2 separate regions of the Homo sapiens genome follow, and region 1 is linked to region 2. Evidence: fine-mapped expression QTL. Tissue or cell type: whole blood. Region 2 holds a variant in brackets; the other region holds the start of a gene. All regions are shown on one strand. Distances are between the middles of the regions.

Evidence for each region. PIP is the estimated chance that this variant, and not a neighbour inherited with it, causes the effect.
Region 1: TRAP1 starts here. The variant in region 2 is fine-mapped to the expression of TRAP1 in whole blood (INTERVAL, PIP above 0.99).

What each region holds. Positions count from the first base shown.
Region 1 is chr16:3,712,896-3,721,074 of GRCh38, reverse strand. TRAP1 (TNF receptor associated protein 1) reads left to right here and starts at 3,551. Exons shown (of 18, transcript NM_016292.3): 1 at 3,551-3,654. The coding sequence starts at 3,567. RefSeq lists silencers at 3,201-3,810, 3,831-3,950 and an enhancer at 6,805-7,313.
Region 2 is chr16:3,423,539-3,431,717 of GRCh38, reverse strand. No RefSeq gene overlaps it. Among named protein-coding and RNA genes, the nearest start is that of ZNF597, 16 kb to the left of the region's middle. RefSeq lists an enhancer at 1-267. The variant G/T (reference allele first, on the strand shown) is at 3,514.

The sequences.
Region 1 (8,179 bases), 290 kb before region 2:
AGAGATGATTTCCTGAATGGAGCGAAAAAGGGATGAAATGTGAAGCCGAGACACCCCCCACCCACCCCCATTCCCTGAGGACATGCTGGAAAGGGCTCTGCCTGGAGTGTGGTGATAGGGAACACAGGCAGGCCCATGCAGGCCTATAGGAGGAGGCAGAAGGAGTTTGGAAAGGATTGTAAATATGTGCATGTGTGTTGGTAGGGGGACCACTGGAGGATCTGAGAGACGGAGTATGATCCGGCTGCTGTGGAGGATGGGAGGCTGGCAAGAGCGGAAGCAGGGGGCCTGTCAGGGCTGCTGGAGTGGTCTGGGTGACAGGACCCTGCTCTTCCACCCAAATCTGCCCACCCTCTTTCCATTCCCTTCTCAATTGCTTAAGCTGGGAACTTGCCACTTTCCACCTGGAAGCGTTTCCTGACACATCCTCTTCCACCCAGCTCTGTCCCGGCCCCACTGAAGGTCACTCTCCTGGCTCCTGTGCTTCTCTGCAGCACGTGCCACGAGCTGGAGTCGCTATTTTTGTACAGTTATTAGAGTGTGGCAGTGAATCTTCAGTGTGCCTCCGAATTACCTGGGAACCTCAGTGGAGCCGCCTGGGCCCCACTCCGGGACTGAGGAGGTGCCGGGAAATCGGCATTATGAGGCTGCAGCTGGGTCTGGACCAAATGTTAGACCAGGGTGTATGGTCTGAATCTCCAACTAGTCTCTAACCTCCAGCAAGGTGTAAAGCAAAAACAAATTCTTTTTTTGCTGTTGTTTTTTGAGATAGAGTCTCACTCTGTTGCCCAGGCTGGAGTGCAGTGGCACGATCTCAGCTCACTGCAACCTCTGCCTCCCGGGTTCAAGCGATTCTCCTGCCTCAGCCTCCCGAGTAGCTGGGATTATAGGCATGTGCCGCCATGCCCGGCTAATTTTGTATTTTTAGTGGAGACAGGGTTTCTCCATGTTGGTCAGGCTGGTCTTGAACTCCCAACATCAGGTGATCCGCCTGCCTCGGCCTCCCAAAGTACTGGGATTACAGGCGTGAGCCACCGTGCCCAGCCGGCAAAAACACATTATAAGTCCCCCAACCCATGGAATGGATCATTCCTCTCCACCAAGGGGATTTCAAAGAAACCTAAAAAACTAGTTCAGGCCATAATTGGAAGGATGGGGTGGGTCCTGCCTCATTACACCCTCCACCCCTTGGAAATGAGGCACAACTGACCAGCGTTAACATTACAAAGGACTTTTTTTTTTTTTTGAGACGGAATCTTGTTCTGTTGCCCAGGCTGGAGTGGGAGTGCAGTGGTGCGATCTTGGCTCACTGCAATCTCTGCCTCCTGGGTTCAAGCGATTCCCCTGCTTCAGCCTCCCGAGTAGCCTCAGCTGTACACAGGTGCACACCACCACACCCAGGTAATTTTTTTTGTTTTTGAGACAGACTTTCACTCTTGTTGCCCAGGCTGGAGTGCAATGGTGCGGTATCAGCTCACTGCAACCTTCACCTCCTGGGTTCCAGCGATTCTCCTGCCTTAACCTCCTGCGTAGCTGGGATTACAGGCATGCGCCACCACGCCTGACTGATTTTTTGTATTTTTAGTAGAGACGGAGTTTCTCCCTGTCAGTCACGCTGGTCTCGAACTCCCGACCTCAGGTGATCTGCCCGCCTCAGCCTCCCAAAGTGCTAGGATTACAGGCGTGAGCCACTGCTCTTGGCCTAATTTTTGTATTTTTAGTAGAGATGGGGTTTTGCCATGCCGACCAGGCTGGTCTCAACCTCCTGACCTCAAGTGATAAGACCACCTTGGCCTCCTAAAGTGCTGGAATTACATGCGTAAGCCACCATGCCAGGCCACCTTTGCAGGTCTTTTCCTGATCCTGAGGGTCTAGGAATTTTTAACGGTCTGAATAAACAATATTTGCGAAAACATTTGCCATCTATTACCTGTAAGGGTGGTCATCTATGAGACTTCCTCTACATAATAAGAACCTTGGTCTTCACAACCTGTTTTTTGTTTGTTTGTTTGTTTGTTTGTTTTGAGACAGGGTGTGGCTCTCTTGCCCAAGCTGGAGTTCAATGGCACGAACTTGGCTCACTGCAACCTCTCCCTCCTGGGCTTAAGCAATCCACCCACCTCAGCCTCCCTTGTAGCTGGGATTACAGGCCTCCGCCACCACATCCGGTACAGGTATGTTTGGTACAGACAGGGTCTCACCATGTTGCCCACGCTGCTCTCCAACTCCTGACCTCAAGCAATTCGCCCACCTCGGCATCCCAAAGTGTTGGGATTACAGGTGTGAGTCACCGTGCTCGTGCCCACAACCCCTTATCTTCACCCAGACACTCTTTTTATTGATTCCAGGTCTGTATAACTCAACTCTTTTTTTTCTTTTTTTTGTTTTCTTTTTTTTTTTTTTTTGAGACGGAGTCACAGCTCTGTCGCCCAGGCTGCAGTGCAAGTGGCACGATCTCGGCTCACTGCAACCGCAGCCTCCCGGGTTCACGCTATTCTTCCGCCTCAGCCTCCCCAGGAGCTGGGACTACAGGCACGTGCCACCTTGCCCAGCTAATTTTTTGTATCTTAGTAGAGATGATGGGTTTTCACCATGTTGGCCAGGCTGGTCTCGGACTCCTGACCGCAGGCAGTCCGCCCACCTCAGCCTCCCAAAGTGCTAGGATTACAGGCGTGAGCCACCGCGCCCAACCAGAACTCAACTCTTTTAACCAATTGCCAATCAGAAAGTATCTGAATCCACCTATGACCTCTAAGTATTTCACCCTTTGAGTTGTCCTGCCTTTCCACACGGAACCAACCTATGTCTTACATGCATTGACTGATGTCTTATGTCTCTCTAAAATGTATAAAACCAAGCAAGCTGTAACCCAAGCACCTTGGGCCAAGTTCTCAGGACCTTTTGAGACTGTGCCTCCCTCCATGCACACTCATATTTGGCTCAGAATAACCTTCTAAATACTTTAGAGTTTGACTCTTCTCGACAAGGACAAGAGAAGTGGAATAAACGAATAACCGCAGTTTTCCTGGTGGTATTGGTCACTGGGTTCAGGTTTTGGAGTAGTAGCCAGTCAAGCCTGGAATCCCCTTCCTCATTCGCTTTAGCTTTTTGTCCAGTCTTGGTTTGCAAGAGACTTGCAGCGGCCTAGACGGATGGCCGGGATTCACAAAGGTCGCAGACACGGGAACTGCTTCTTCCCCAGCGTCGCCTCCACACCCTCGCGTGGATACTGACATCCGCCCCATTCCAGGAATGCGCACAGCTAGGCGCAGCCGGCCAGCGTGGGCCGGGGGCGGCGGGGCCACCTCCCCCACCTCCGCGCGCAAGGCCCGTCGCCCTTGACAACGCGATCCAAGGTCACGGAGGTCCCACCCCCAGGCCCGACCGTCCACGAGACGGGTAGTACCCCGCCACGCGCCCGAGCAGGCAGCTGCCCGGACAGCCCGGCGCCCGCCGTGACGTCACCGCCCCGCGCCCGAGGAAGCCCCGCCCCGCGCAGCCCCGTCCCGCCCCTTCCCATCGTGTACGGTCCCGCGTGGCTGCGCGCGGCGCTCTGGGAGTACGACATGGCGCGCGAGCTGCGGGCGCTGCTGCTGTGGGGCCGCCGCCTGCGGCCTTTGCTGCGGGCGCCGGCGCTGGCGGCCGTGCCGGGAGGTGAGGGCGTCCTGGCTGGACGGGCAGCGGGCGGGCCGGGCCACGGAGACGGCAGGGACGTCCCTGTGCTCCGGGGAGCGAGGCGCCGGCACCTGCTTCACAGGCGTGGGAGGTCCGGCGAGGCCAAGCGCGGCAGACGCGTTTACTTTCGCTCCGCTCCTCGCCAGCTCCAGCTTGGCTGCCTTTTCCTCGGCTGGACTCCCCTCGCCACCCGCCCATGGGAGCCCTGAAGGAGGCTGGGTCTTGGGGGGTCGCGGGGTCGGGCGGAGCGGCTGCGGGGTCGTCCCTCCTGGAGCTTCGGTCCAGTCAGGTAGCGCACGTGCAGGTGGAGCCGCTGCGGAGCGCGGAGTCTTTGCGGGTGCATGTTGCGGGGAATGGACTCACTCGGGGTGATCGTGCTAGTTCCATGGATCGTGCTTTACCCCTCCCCGCCTCCCAGTAGCGCACTGAGGGTTCATTTGTTAATTCGTTCATTGGACGCACATGTGAGCGCCCGCTCAGTGCCCGGCGCCGTGCAGGTTCTGGGGACGCCACAGTGAACAAAACCTATAGCAGTCATCCGGGTCCCCAGAGCAGGTGGACTCGATGTCGTTGACGCAGCTGTGTCCTCGGGGCCTGGAATTGATGGATGCGCCAATAAATGTTTGTAAAACAGAGAGAACGACCCTAACCTCTGCTTTCCCAGTCCCCACTCGGAGGTAACAACAGTGAAAGTTTCGGCATTGCTTCGGGGCTGTACACAGTGTTATACGTGTAAATATAAATGTCTGCGTATAAGTATTTTTTATTCTAAAAAGCCTAAACCATGTATGCATTGTGCTACGTTGTACTTCAGAAAATTTTAACGCTCCCAGCATTCTTTCCACATCTTTTCATGTCAGTGTATACAGGTCCATGTGCCTTCCAGTGACCACACAGTATTCTGTATGATGGACGTGTCATTTGTTTAAACATTGTCCTATTAGTGGACGCAATAAAGGTTATTTCAGGTTTTACTTTTTATTACAATGCTGCATAGAATGGGTGAGTACTTAAATATTTGTTCACGTGCGGTATTTCTTTAGCCTTACATAATTAGAATTTTAGAATTGATATTTCAGAGCCTATGCATTTTTGAAATGTTAGCAGATACTGCCAAATTGTCCAAAAAGGCCTTATCAATTTATATCCCCTTTAGCAGGCATCAAGACTGCCTATTCCAAAGGTATTTTCTTCAACGCTGAATCTTATGTCTTTTCAAAACCAGTGGTCTATAAAAGATACCTTGTGGCCGGGCGCGGTGGCTCACGCCTGTAATCCTAGCACTTTGGGAGCCTGAGGTGGGCAGATCAGGAGTTCAAGACCAGCCTGGCCAACATGGTGAAACCCTGTCTCTACTAAAAATACAAAAATTAGCTGGGTGTGGTGGCGCGCGCCTGTAATCCCAGCTTCTTGGGAGGCTGAGGCAGGAGAATCGCTTGAACCCAGGAGGCAGAGATTGCAGTGAGCTGAGATTGCACCACTGCACTCCAGCCTGGGCGACAGAGTGAGACTTCATCTCAACAACAAAAATAATAATAATTTTCCCTCAGAAAGTGATGCTGTTGCTCTCTTCTAGCACCAGTGTCTGATCAATTATTTATTTATTTTTTTGTCTTTATGAGGTGGGGTTTCACTATGTTGGCCAGGCTGGTCTCCAGTGCCTGACCTCAAGTGATCTGCCTGCCTTGCCCTCCAAAATGCTGGGATTGCAGGCGTGTGTCACCGTGCCTGGCCAACTGTTCTGTTAATTTGGTTCTCGTTTCTTTTGTAGCTGACTCGGGTTTTTTCCCCCTTGGAGGTTAAGATTTTTTCTCTTTGTCGTTTGTGGTCTCGCGTCCACAGGTGTTTGTGATTCATGCTTTGTATCATGCACTGTCCCTTCCATTTGGAAAATATGTCAGTTTTCAGCCCAGGGACATTTTAATTCTGTTTCTTTATCTCTTTTTCTTTTTCTTTTTTTTTGAGATGGAGTCTTGCTCTGTCACCCAGGCTGGAGTGCAGTGGCGCGATCTTGGCTCACTGCAAGCTCCGCCTCCCGGGTTCAGGCCATTCTCCTGCCTCAGCCTCCCGAGTAGCTGGGACTTTAGGCGCCCACCACCATGCCTGGCTAATTTTTTGTATTTTTAGTAGAGACGGGGTTTCACCCTGTTAGCCAGGATGGTCTCGATCTCCTGACCTCGTGATCCGCCCACTTCGGCCTCCCAAAGTGCTGGGATTACAAGCGTGAGCCGCTGTGCCCAGCCCTTTATCTCTTTTTCTTAAAAATTGTCTCTCTCCTCTCGTCCTCCATCTTCTGGTGCGGTGGTTCAAGCATTCCTCTGCCTGAGTCTAAGAAATGGAACATGTTCTTGGCAGCCTTCTGCGTGGCAGGTGCCCTTGTCATTGTCACCTGTGTGGATGAATGGGAAGGTAAATTGTTTGGATTGATTGAACGATGAGAGAATTTAGCTAAGAAAATACATGTCTTGTGCAACAGGGGAGAAAGAATAGTTTAGGCAGATCCACCTATGTAGAAAATCCAGACCTCTTGAAATTTTTTTCTTTTCTTGGGAAAGTATTTCCAGGTTGTAGCATGTGCCTGGCTTCAGGTGTGCGTGTCTTATGTCTGTGGAATCCTCTCGCCCATGCTACGCTGCCTCAGTCACCCATGAGCTCAGCCCTCTTACCCTTTCAGACCTCACTGACCCCTGACACTGCCAGCCCTGTCACTTGCCCTCAGAATATCTTATTTGATTTTTTTTGAGCCGGAGTCTTGCTCTGTTGCCCAGGCTGGAGTGCAGTGGTGCAACCTCAGCTCACCACACCCTCCGCCTCCTGGGTTCGAGTGATTCTCCTGACTTCGCCTCCCACGTAGCTGGGACTACAGGCGCATGCCACCACACCCAGCTAGGTTTTGTATTTTTAATAGAGATGGGGTTTCACTATGCTGGCCAGGGTGGTCTCGAACTCCTGACCTCATGATCCACTAGCCTTGGCCTCCCAAAATGCTGGGATTACAGGCGTGAGCCACTGCGCCTGGCCTACCCTCAGAATATTTCTGTGAGGGGTGGGCTAGGATATCCGCTTGTGGACTTTATATTTGTCATTTTTGCCCATAACAGTTTATTCAGCAAATACATTTCCAATGCCCCCGAGTCGTCAAAGAAAATGTGACCCTGCTGTCTGGAGTCATAGGTGGCTGCTGAGCAGTGTACCAGGGCCATCTTGGTGGCCTGGACAGCACATTAGAGAAACAAGAGCTGCTTGCCCCAGGGTAAGTTTCACAGATGAGGAGCGATTTGGGCCGAGTGTCCAAGGCTGTTTTCACTGGAGGGGAGGGAGGAACGTTCCATGTCTGGAAAGCTGCAGGTGCAAGGGTAAGGAGATAGCTCTGAATAATTGGTTTGATGAAAGACTTGCGGGAGTGTGCAGGAGTGATGGTGAATGAGGCTAGCAGTTGTGTCTTTTCTGTCAGATATAAGCTTGTGCGTAGGAGCCTCATCCTGCATTCCTCAGGACAGTCACAGAGCCAGCCCTGGGCCTGGTGTGTGGGGAGCCCAGCCACGTGGCCCACCATGAGAGCTTTTCGTCAGAGCTCCAACTGTCAGAAGTGTCAGATGTGCCAGTAGAAGGATGAGGCCGCCTCCTAAAGGAGAGGGAAGACCTGGAAAGATCAACAGCAGACGCAGTCTCCCAAAGCAAACGTGATTCTGTGGTCAGGCAGGTACGGTGACGGGTTGGTCATTTTGCATGACGAGGTGACTGCCACAATCACCAAGGGTGCCGAGTCCAGTCTCCTGGTCATGCCAGATGCTCTTGTTTTCGTGAAATTGCCAGAACATGACTGAGGCAACCACGATAGGACTGGTTGGTGCAGGCGTTAAGATCTTGGGCCTTTTTGTTCTCTGTAAGCTGGAGCCTTTGCTGGAACTTCCTGTCTTGGAAATCAGAGTTGTGAGAGTAGGTCCCCTGCCAGCACCAGGAAGGTCGGGAGAGCTGGTTTCCTCACTTTGCTCAGGGCTCAAGTACTAGCTAGTTTGTTTCATCTTCCAAAAAGAGCCTCACCTGGACCCCGCTCCTGTAGGTGGTGCCTGCCTGCTGCGCCCTCCCCTTCAGTACTTCGTTTTGTTGACGGGTTTTGCCTCCTCCCTCTGCTCTCCCTTTGTTTGGAGCCTGTGCTGTTTGATTTCCGTGTCTTGTGTGCTGCACCCTTCAGGAGAATTCAGGTGAATTTCTGGTGCTCTCCGGCTGTTCTTTTCAGAGTGGAGGGGAGTAGTACTTGCTGGTCAGTTGCGACTCTGTCTGTGAAACAGCTCTTTGTGTTGCTGAGATGACGCTAGAGGTGTAGCGTCCATGACATGTTTGTCGTCTGATTAAGCTGTGGTGCTGGCACTTAGACGGCAGAGGAAGGTGTGGCCCAGCTGTCCAAGGCCACCAGGAGGACCTTCAGCTTAGTTAGGACCAAGGGAACTGAGTTATCTGAGTGCCTGAAAAAGAACACATCAGGCCGGGCGCGGTGGCTCTC
Region 2 (8,179 bases):
AACACGAATCTCCATCCCATGATTCTAGGCGTTAGGACTGGAGAAGCAGCTCCGGGCCACCGTCCCAGCTCTAATCTCACTTAGGCAATGCAGAGCTGTGGGCCTGACTACCACGTGTGTCTCTGGCTTGTTGAAATGGGCACTTTGTACATCTCACTTGTGCTGGGTAGAGTGTCTTTTCTTTAGAACCAGTACCAATCTCTTAGGCTTTTGGCATTCTCTGCAGCCAAATTCTAACATGCTTCTACTTAGCTGGAATGTACCCTCGGCTTACCTTTGGTAAATGGTATCTCCCCAGGTGAGCTTAGCCACTTCCATGGCTACAAAGACCTCATTTTAGGTCTAGCTCCAATTTCTTTTCTATGTACTCCAGATTCCTACATTCAGGTGCCTACAGGAGTCGTCTTTTAGATGTCTCTCAGGCATCAAAACACATGCCCTTAACTCATGCTTTTAGCCCCTGATCTGTTTGCCTCCAGTATGTGGGGCCACATCCATACAATTGCTCATGCTATCAACAAACACTCCCTCTTTCCTCTTGCTATGGCTTGAATATTTGTGTACCCTAAAAATTCATGTGTTGGAATTCTAACACTTAAACTGATGTTATTAGGAGGTGGGGACTTTGGCAGACCCCTCATGATTGGGATTAGTGTCCTTATAAAAGAGACTGCAGGCCGGGTGTGGTGGCTTACGTCTGTAATCCCAGTGCTTTGGGAGGCCAAGGTGTGAGAATTGCTTAAAGCCAGGAGTTCAAGACCGGCCTGGGAAACATAGCGACACGCCATCTTTTCAAAAAATTTATTTAGCCCGGTGTGGTGGCTGGTGCTTGTAGTCCTAGCTACTTGGGAGGCTGAGGCAGGAGGATTGCTTGAGCCCAGGAAGTTGAGGTTACAGTGAACTATGATTGGCCCACTGTACTCGAGCCTGTGAGGACCCAGCAAGAAGGTGCCATTGTGGAAATGGCCCTCACCAGACAATGAATCTGCCAGCACCTTGATCTGGGTTTCCTAGCCTCTAGAACTATGAGAAAAAAATTTCTGTTGTTTATAAACTACCTGGCTTATGGTAACTTTTTATAGAAGCCAGAACAGACTAAGACATCACATCCACTCAATCATCAAGTCTCATGGATTCTACCTCAAAAGTATCACCAAAACCTGAATGTTTCTGTCTCCCCTGTCCCCATCCTATCCAACAGTACTCACCTGGGTTACCTGAAAGAGCCCGCTGATGACTTTCATATCACACTTGTTCTCTGTCAACACAGCTAACACACTGCCATTTAATAAAAGAAGTATTAAAAAATGTTTGCTCCCTGAAACTCAGCAGAAAATTCCAGCATTATTGCGGGAAGACAACACTAGATGTTCATCTTTCCAGTCTTTGCTGCACAGAACTAGAGGGCCAGGTACCAGATGATTATGATGATTTCATCATCCAATTTGACACCTTCCATTGGCTTCCCATTGTCCTTAGGGACATTTAAATTTTCAACATGACCTTCCTAGTCATTACTTCCCTGCCAGTGTCAACTCCAGCTGTTCTTTTTCTCTTACCCCTCTCCAGCTACACTTTCTCTCAATTCATCAAACATACCAAGCTCTTTGAGAATTGTGCACATACTTTTCCTTTTACTTGGAACATCCCTTTCAATTCCTACATTCTTTGTTTTACCCTCCTTATAGCAATATGCTTGTAATTGAATATTAATTATGTAACTAATAAAATTTCATTGTCTCCATGGGAGGAGAGACCAGGAACATGGTAGATGCTTAAAATTATGCACTGATTGAAACTACTACGGCTCTGTCACTTTTATACCATTGGTTTCAGCTTAAAGACTGACAGAGGGCCGGGTGCAGTGGCTCATGCCTGTGATCCCAGCACTTTGGGAGGCCGAGGTGGGCAGATTACGAGGTCAGGAGTTCGAGACCAGCCTGGCCAATATGGTGAAACCCCATCTCTACTAAAAAAAATACAAAAATTAGCCGGGCATGGTGGTGCGCATCTGTAGTCGCAGCTAGTTGGGAGGCTGAGGCAGGAGAATCGCTTGAACCCAGGAGGCGGAAGTTGCAGTGAGCCGAGATTGTGCCACTGCACTCCAGCCTGGGCAACAGAGTGAGACTTTGTCAAAAAAAAAAAAAAAAAGAAAGGAGAATAGATACTGGTGCTGTCACTTACTAGTAGGCAAGAGGTGTAACAGTGTACCCAAAGAAGCTGTAAGGAGTTTAGAAAAAAACTAAGAAAGCTTCCAGGATAAATATATAATGATACCTTATAGGCTTGAAGGTAATAATTTAGCAAAGATGGCCGGTGCAGTGGCTCACACCTGTAATCCCAGCACTTTGGGAGGTCAAGGCAGGAGGATTACTTGAGGCCAGAAGTTCCAGACCAGCCTGGGCAACATAATAAGACCCATCTCTACCAAAAATTTAAAAATTAGGCCGGGCACAGTGGCTCACGCCTGTAATCCCAGCCCTTTGGGAGACCAAGGCAGGCAGATCACGGGGTCAAGAGATTGAGACCATCCTGGCCAACATGGTGAAACCCCATCTCTACTAAAAATACAAAACAAAAATAGCTGGTCATGGTGGCACGCACCTGTAGTCCCAGCTACTTGGGAGGCTGACACAGGAGAATTGCTTGAACCCAGGAGGTGGAGGTTGCAGTGAGCCAAGATCGCGCCACTGCACTCCAGCCTGGGGGACAAAGGGAGACTCTGTCTGAAAAAAAAAAAAAAAAAGCCGGGCGTAGTGGCACATGCCTGTAGTCCCAGCTACTCAGGAGGCTAAGGTGATAGGATCACTTGAGCCTGGGTGGAGGCTGTAGTGAGCTGTGATTGTTCCACCGTACTCACCCTGGGTGACAGAATGAGAACTCCCTCCCTGCCCAAAAAAAAAGTTTCATTTCACTGATTGGGCATCAACAAGATACAGAATGGGAGACTCCTGACTTTCTTTCCTTCCATGGATGCACTGAATAAGTATCTACACATGGATCAGTTCTCTCTGAGAGAAATATAGAAACTAGTTGAGACTCCCACACACTGGCAACTGATAATATATCCACATCAAAATGGATACCAACAAATTGAGACACAATGTAAACCAAAAACCTGGGCACAGTATCTTACAATTGGGAAGGAATCCCGAAATACCAGATTTTTGAAGAATGAAGGGTTGAGGCCAGACATATCGCTCCCAAACTTAAACAGTTTCCACGTGAGAGTTTGGCTCCTAAATCTTCTTATCCCGGGAATGGCAGGGTTTAGTATTTGTGAGTCCCCTGAGAAAAAAGGACATTTTATTTATTTATTTATTTATTTATTTATTTAGAGACAGAGTTTTGCTTTTTTCACCCAGGTTGTAGTGCAATGGCACAATATTGGCTTACTGCAACTTCCGCCTCCTGGGCTCAAGCGATTCTCCTGCCTTAGGCTATAGAGTAGGCGGGATTACAGGCGCACACCACCATGCCCAGCTAATTTTGTGGGGTTTTTTTTTTTTGTTT[G/T]TTTGTTTTTTTTGAGACAGAGTCTCTCTCTGTTGCCCAGGTTGGAGTGCAGTGGCGCAATCTCAACTCACTGCAACCTCTGCCTCCTGGGTTCAAGCGATTCTCCTGCCTCAGCCTCTCGAGTAGCTGGGACTACAGGCACTTGCCACCATGCCTGGCTAATTTTTTGTATTTTTAGTAGAGATGGGGTTTCACAGTGTTAGGATGGTCTCGATCTCCTGATCTTGTGATCCACCCGCCTCAGCCTCCCAAAGTGCTGGGATTACAGGTGTGAGCCACCATGCCCAGCCATAAGAGGACATTTTAAACAGGTATGTGAGCACTTTCAGCGGCTGTCCCCCAGGGTCAGTGCAGAGCAAGCAGGCAGAAATGCACCATCTGCTGGGCACCATGGCTCATGCCTGTAATCCCAGTGCTTTGAGATGCTGAGGCAGAGGATCACTTGAGGCCAGGAGTTTGAAAACAGCCTGGGGAACATACAAACACCCTGCCTCTACCAAAACAAAAAAAAATTTTTTTTAATTAGCCAGGTGTGGTGACATATGCCTATAGTCCTAGCTACTCAGGATGCTGAGGCAGGATGATCGCTTGAGCCCAAGATTCAGGGTTGCACTGAGCTATGATGGAGCCACTGCGTTACAGCCTAGGTGGCAGAGTGAGACCCTGTCTCTAAAAAAAAAGAAAAGAAACAAAAGAATTTAAAAAAGCAGTTCCACAGTCTCCCTAAAAGGGATTTATCTACACATTTTTCCCAACTGCTGCCTGAACGCTGGGCTTCTAAGTAGCCTACATCGAGTAGCTGATAGGGCTGGTAAACAATAGACCTCCAGGAGCATGAACAGGCATGTGGGAACTTCACTGTCGTTCTCCCCTCTGCCACTACTCCATTCAGAGATAAAACTAGGGGCCAGGCACGGTGGCTCACCCCTGTAATCCCAGCACTTTGGGTGGCCAAGGCAGGTGGATCAGTGGAGGTCAGGAGTTCAAGACCAGCCTGGTCAACATGGTGAAACCCTCTCTCTGTTAAAAAATACAAAAAGTTACCTGGGCATGGTTGGGGGTTGTCAGGGAGGTGCACCTGTAATCCCAGCTACTCCGGAGGCTGAGGCAGGAGAATGGCTTGAACTCAGGAGGCAGAGGTGGCAGTGAGCTGAGATTGTGCCACTCTACTTCTGCCTGGGTGACAGAGTGAGACTCTGTCTCAAAAATAAAACAACAAAACAAAAAAAAACTAGGCTTCTAGCTTCTTCCTGGACAGTGTACCCCAACTTTTACAGCTTCCACCCAAGGGACCAGCTTCTAAGCTCCTAAATCATCTGTCTCTGGGAATTGATAAGACTGCATTCACAAGTCCCCCTAGACTACAGAGAAGAAAAGTGATTTTAAAAGAGTGTTTGAGCAGTTCTAGCATCCGTTTCCCCTAACTCAGTACAAAGCGAGCAGACAAAAACACCCAGTTCCCAGTTTACCCCCAGGAAGGGGTTTGACTGCACACCTAACGTCCCAACTTTCCCAGCCGCTGTCCATGAGTCAGGCCTCTAGCCTATATCTGGGCACTGACAGGGCAGGCAATAAGTAGTCCTCTGGGAGCCTGAATGGGCATGCAGTTGCTTCCCGCAATTCCTTTTGCAGGCTCACTCTAGAGATGGAGCCAAGCCTCTGAACAATCCATCTGTCCTGGACAGTAGATGGGAGCTGCAATTGACTAGGCCCCTGGGGGTAACAACACATTAGGCAATGGGTTGAAAGAGTATGTGGTCTGAATGAGAATGCAGGCATTTGCTTGGGATTATCTCCCCAGCTTAGTACAGGGCAAGTGGGAGATCAACACCAGTTCCCAGCTTCTCCTTGAGGATAGAAGGAACTGGAACACATATAACACCCCAACTTTTCTAGCTAAATTTCAGTAACTGGCTTCAATATCACCAGTCTTGGGGCACTGATGGCATTTGGTGCACCCCAATCTCTTGGGGCTACTAAGAACAAAGACAGCAGTTTGTACAAGCACAAAAGTTTGAGAGGTGCCTAGAATCTGGTTGGGTTGATTGGTGAGGTTCATCTCCTACGAAAAATCAGATATTAAGACTTGGAAAGAGAGTTGTCTTATCTAATGCATGAAAATCAACACAGTCAACAAAAAAATCAAGAAATAGAAAATACGTTCCAAACAAAAGATGAAGAAATCTCCAGAAACCAATTCCAATGAAATACAGATCAGTGATTTTACCTATTAGAGAATTAAAAATAGGCTGGGTGCAGTGGCTCATGCCTGTAATCCTAGCACTGTGGGAGACCGAGGCGGGTGGATCACCTGAGGTCAGATGTTCGAGACTAGCCTGGCCAACATGGTGAAACCTCATCTCTACTAAAAATACAGAAATCAGCCAGGCGTGGTGGCGGGCACCTGTAATCCCAGCTACTCGGAAGGCTGAGACAGGAGAATCGCTTGAACCTGGGAGGTGGAGGTTGCAGTGAACCAAGATCGTGTCATTGCACTCCAGCCTAGGCAACAGAGCAAAACGTCCTCTCAAAAAAAAAAAAAGAGAATTAAAAATAATCATAAATATGCTCACTGATGTCAGGAGTATAATGTATGAACAAACCGAGACTTTCAACAAAGAGAAAATACAAAAACAAGGGTTGGCATGGTGGCTCACACTGTCATCCCAGCACTTTGGGAGGCCAAGGTGGGAGGATTGCTTGAGGTTAGGAGTTCAAGACCAGCCTGGTTTACATAGTAAGACCCCATGTCTACAAAAAATTAAAAATTAGCCTGGCATGGTGGCATACGCCTGTGGTCCCAGCTCCTCTGGGGGCTGAGGTGGGAGGATCACTTCAGCCTGGGATGCCAAGGCTGCAGTGAGCTGTTATCACACCACTGCACTCCAGCCTGGGTGACTGAGTGAGACCCTGTCTCAGAAAAAGGAGAAAATTTAAAAACATACCAAACAGAAGTTATAGATCTGAAGTACATAATAACTCATCTGAAAAATTCTCTAGAGGGTTTCACTCACAGACTAGGTCAAGCAGAAAAAAGAGTCAGTGAATTTGAAGACCAGCCATTGGAAATTATCCAACCAGAGGGGCAAAAATGAGAAAAAAAGAAAGAGTGAGGATAGATTAAGGTACTTAAGGGACACCATCGAGTAGACTAATGTATGCATTAGTGGATTTTCAGAAGGCAGAGAGAGCAAAACGGACAGAAAGCATATTCAAACAAACAGTGGCTGAAACCCTTCCAAAACTGGGGAATGAAATAGAAATCAAGACCCAAGAAGTCCAAGGGACATGAAATAAGATGAATCCTGCCAGGTGCGGTGGCTCATGCCTGTAATCCCAGCCCTTTGGGAGGCCGAGGCAGGTGGATCACTTGAGGTCAGGAGTTCGAGACCAGCCTGGCCAACATGGTGAAACCCCGTCTCTGCTAAAAATATAAAAATTAGCCGCGCGCGGTGGCATGTGCCTGTAATGCCAGCTACTCAGGAGGCTGAGGCAGGAGAATGGCTTGAACCTGGGAGGTGGAGGTTGCAGTGAGCCTAGATCATGCCATAGCACTCCAGCCTGAGCGACAGAGCGAGACTGTCTCAAAAAAAAAAAAAATAAGATGAATCCAAAGAGATCCACACTGACATACATTACAATCAAATTGTCAAAAGTTAGAGACAGAATTTTGAAAGCAGCCAAGGGAAAAGCAACTTCTGTGTACAAGGGTCCCCTAATAAAACTATTAACAGAGTTTCCAGCATAAACCTTGTGGGCCAGAAAGGAGTGGGACAATAGATACAAAGTGCTGAAAGAAAAAAACTTCCAGTCAAGAATGCTATATCCAACAAACCCATACTTCAAAAATGAGAGGGAAATAAAGACTTTCTCAAACAAAAGCTGAGGGAGATTATCACCACTAGACCTGCCTTATAAGAAATGCTAAAGAGAGTTCTTAAGGTTAAAACAAAAGTATGGAAAACAGTAACAGGAGCACACGAAGTATGAAACTCATTGGCAAAGGTAAATATATAGTCAAAACCAATAGTGTATTACTATAACAGTAGTGGGTAAATCAATTTTAGTTCTCTTATAAAAGTTAAAAGACAAAAGTAGTAAAACAACTATATTATGTTAATTGGTACAATATAAATAGGTGTTAGTGGTGATATCAATAGCATATAAGCCAGGGGAAGAGAGATAAAAGCAAAGTTCTGACATGCAAGGGAAGTTAAGTTGTTATCAGCTTAAAGTAGACTATTATAAGAGATTTTATGTAAACACTTGGTAACTACAAAGAAAATGCCTATAGAATTAAAGAAAAGGAGAAAATAATGAAAACATAGGCCAGGAGTTCGAGACTAGCCTGTCCAACATGGCAAAACCCCATCTCTACTAAAAATAGAAAAATTAGCCAGGTGTGGTGCTGCACACTTGTAATCCCAGCTACTTGGAAGGCTGAGGCAGGAGAATTGCTTGAACCAGAAGGCGAAGGTTGCAGTGAGCCGAGATTGTGCCATTGCCCTCCAGCCTGGGTGACAGAGCAAGACTCCATCTCAAAAAAAAAAAAAAAAAAAAAACAGTGAAATACAAAAGAAAACAGCAAGAGAAAGGGACAGAAGGACTATAAGACTAACAGAAATAAGTAACAAAATATCAATAGTAAATCTTTCCTTATTTTTTA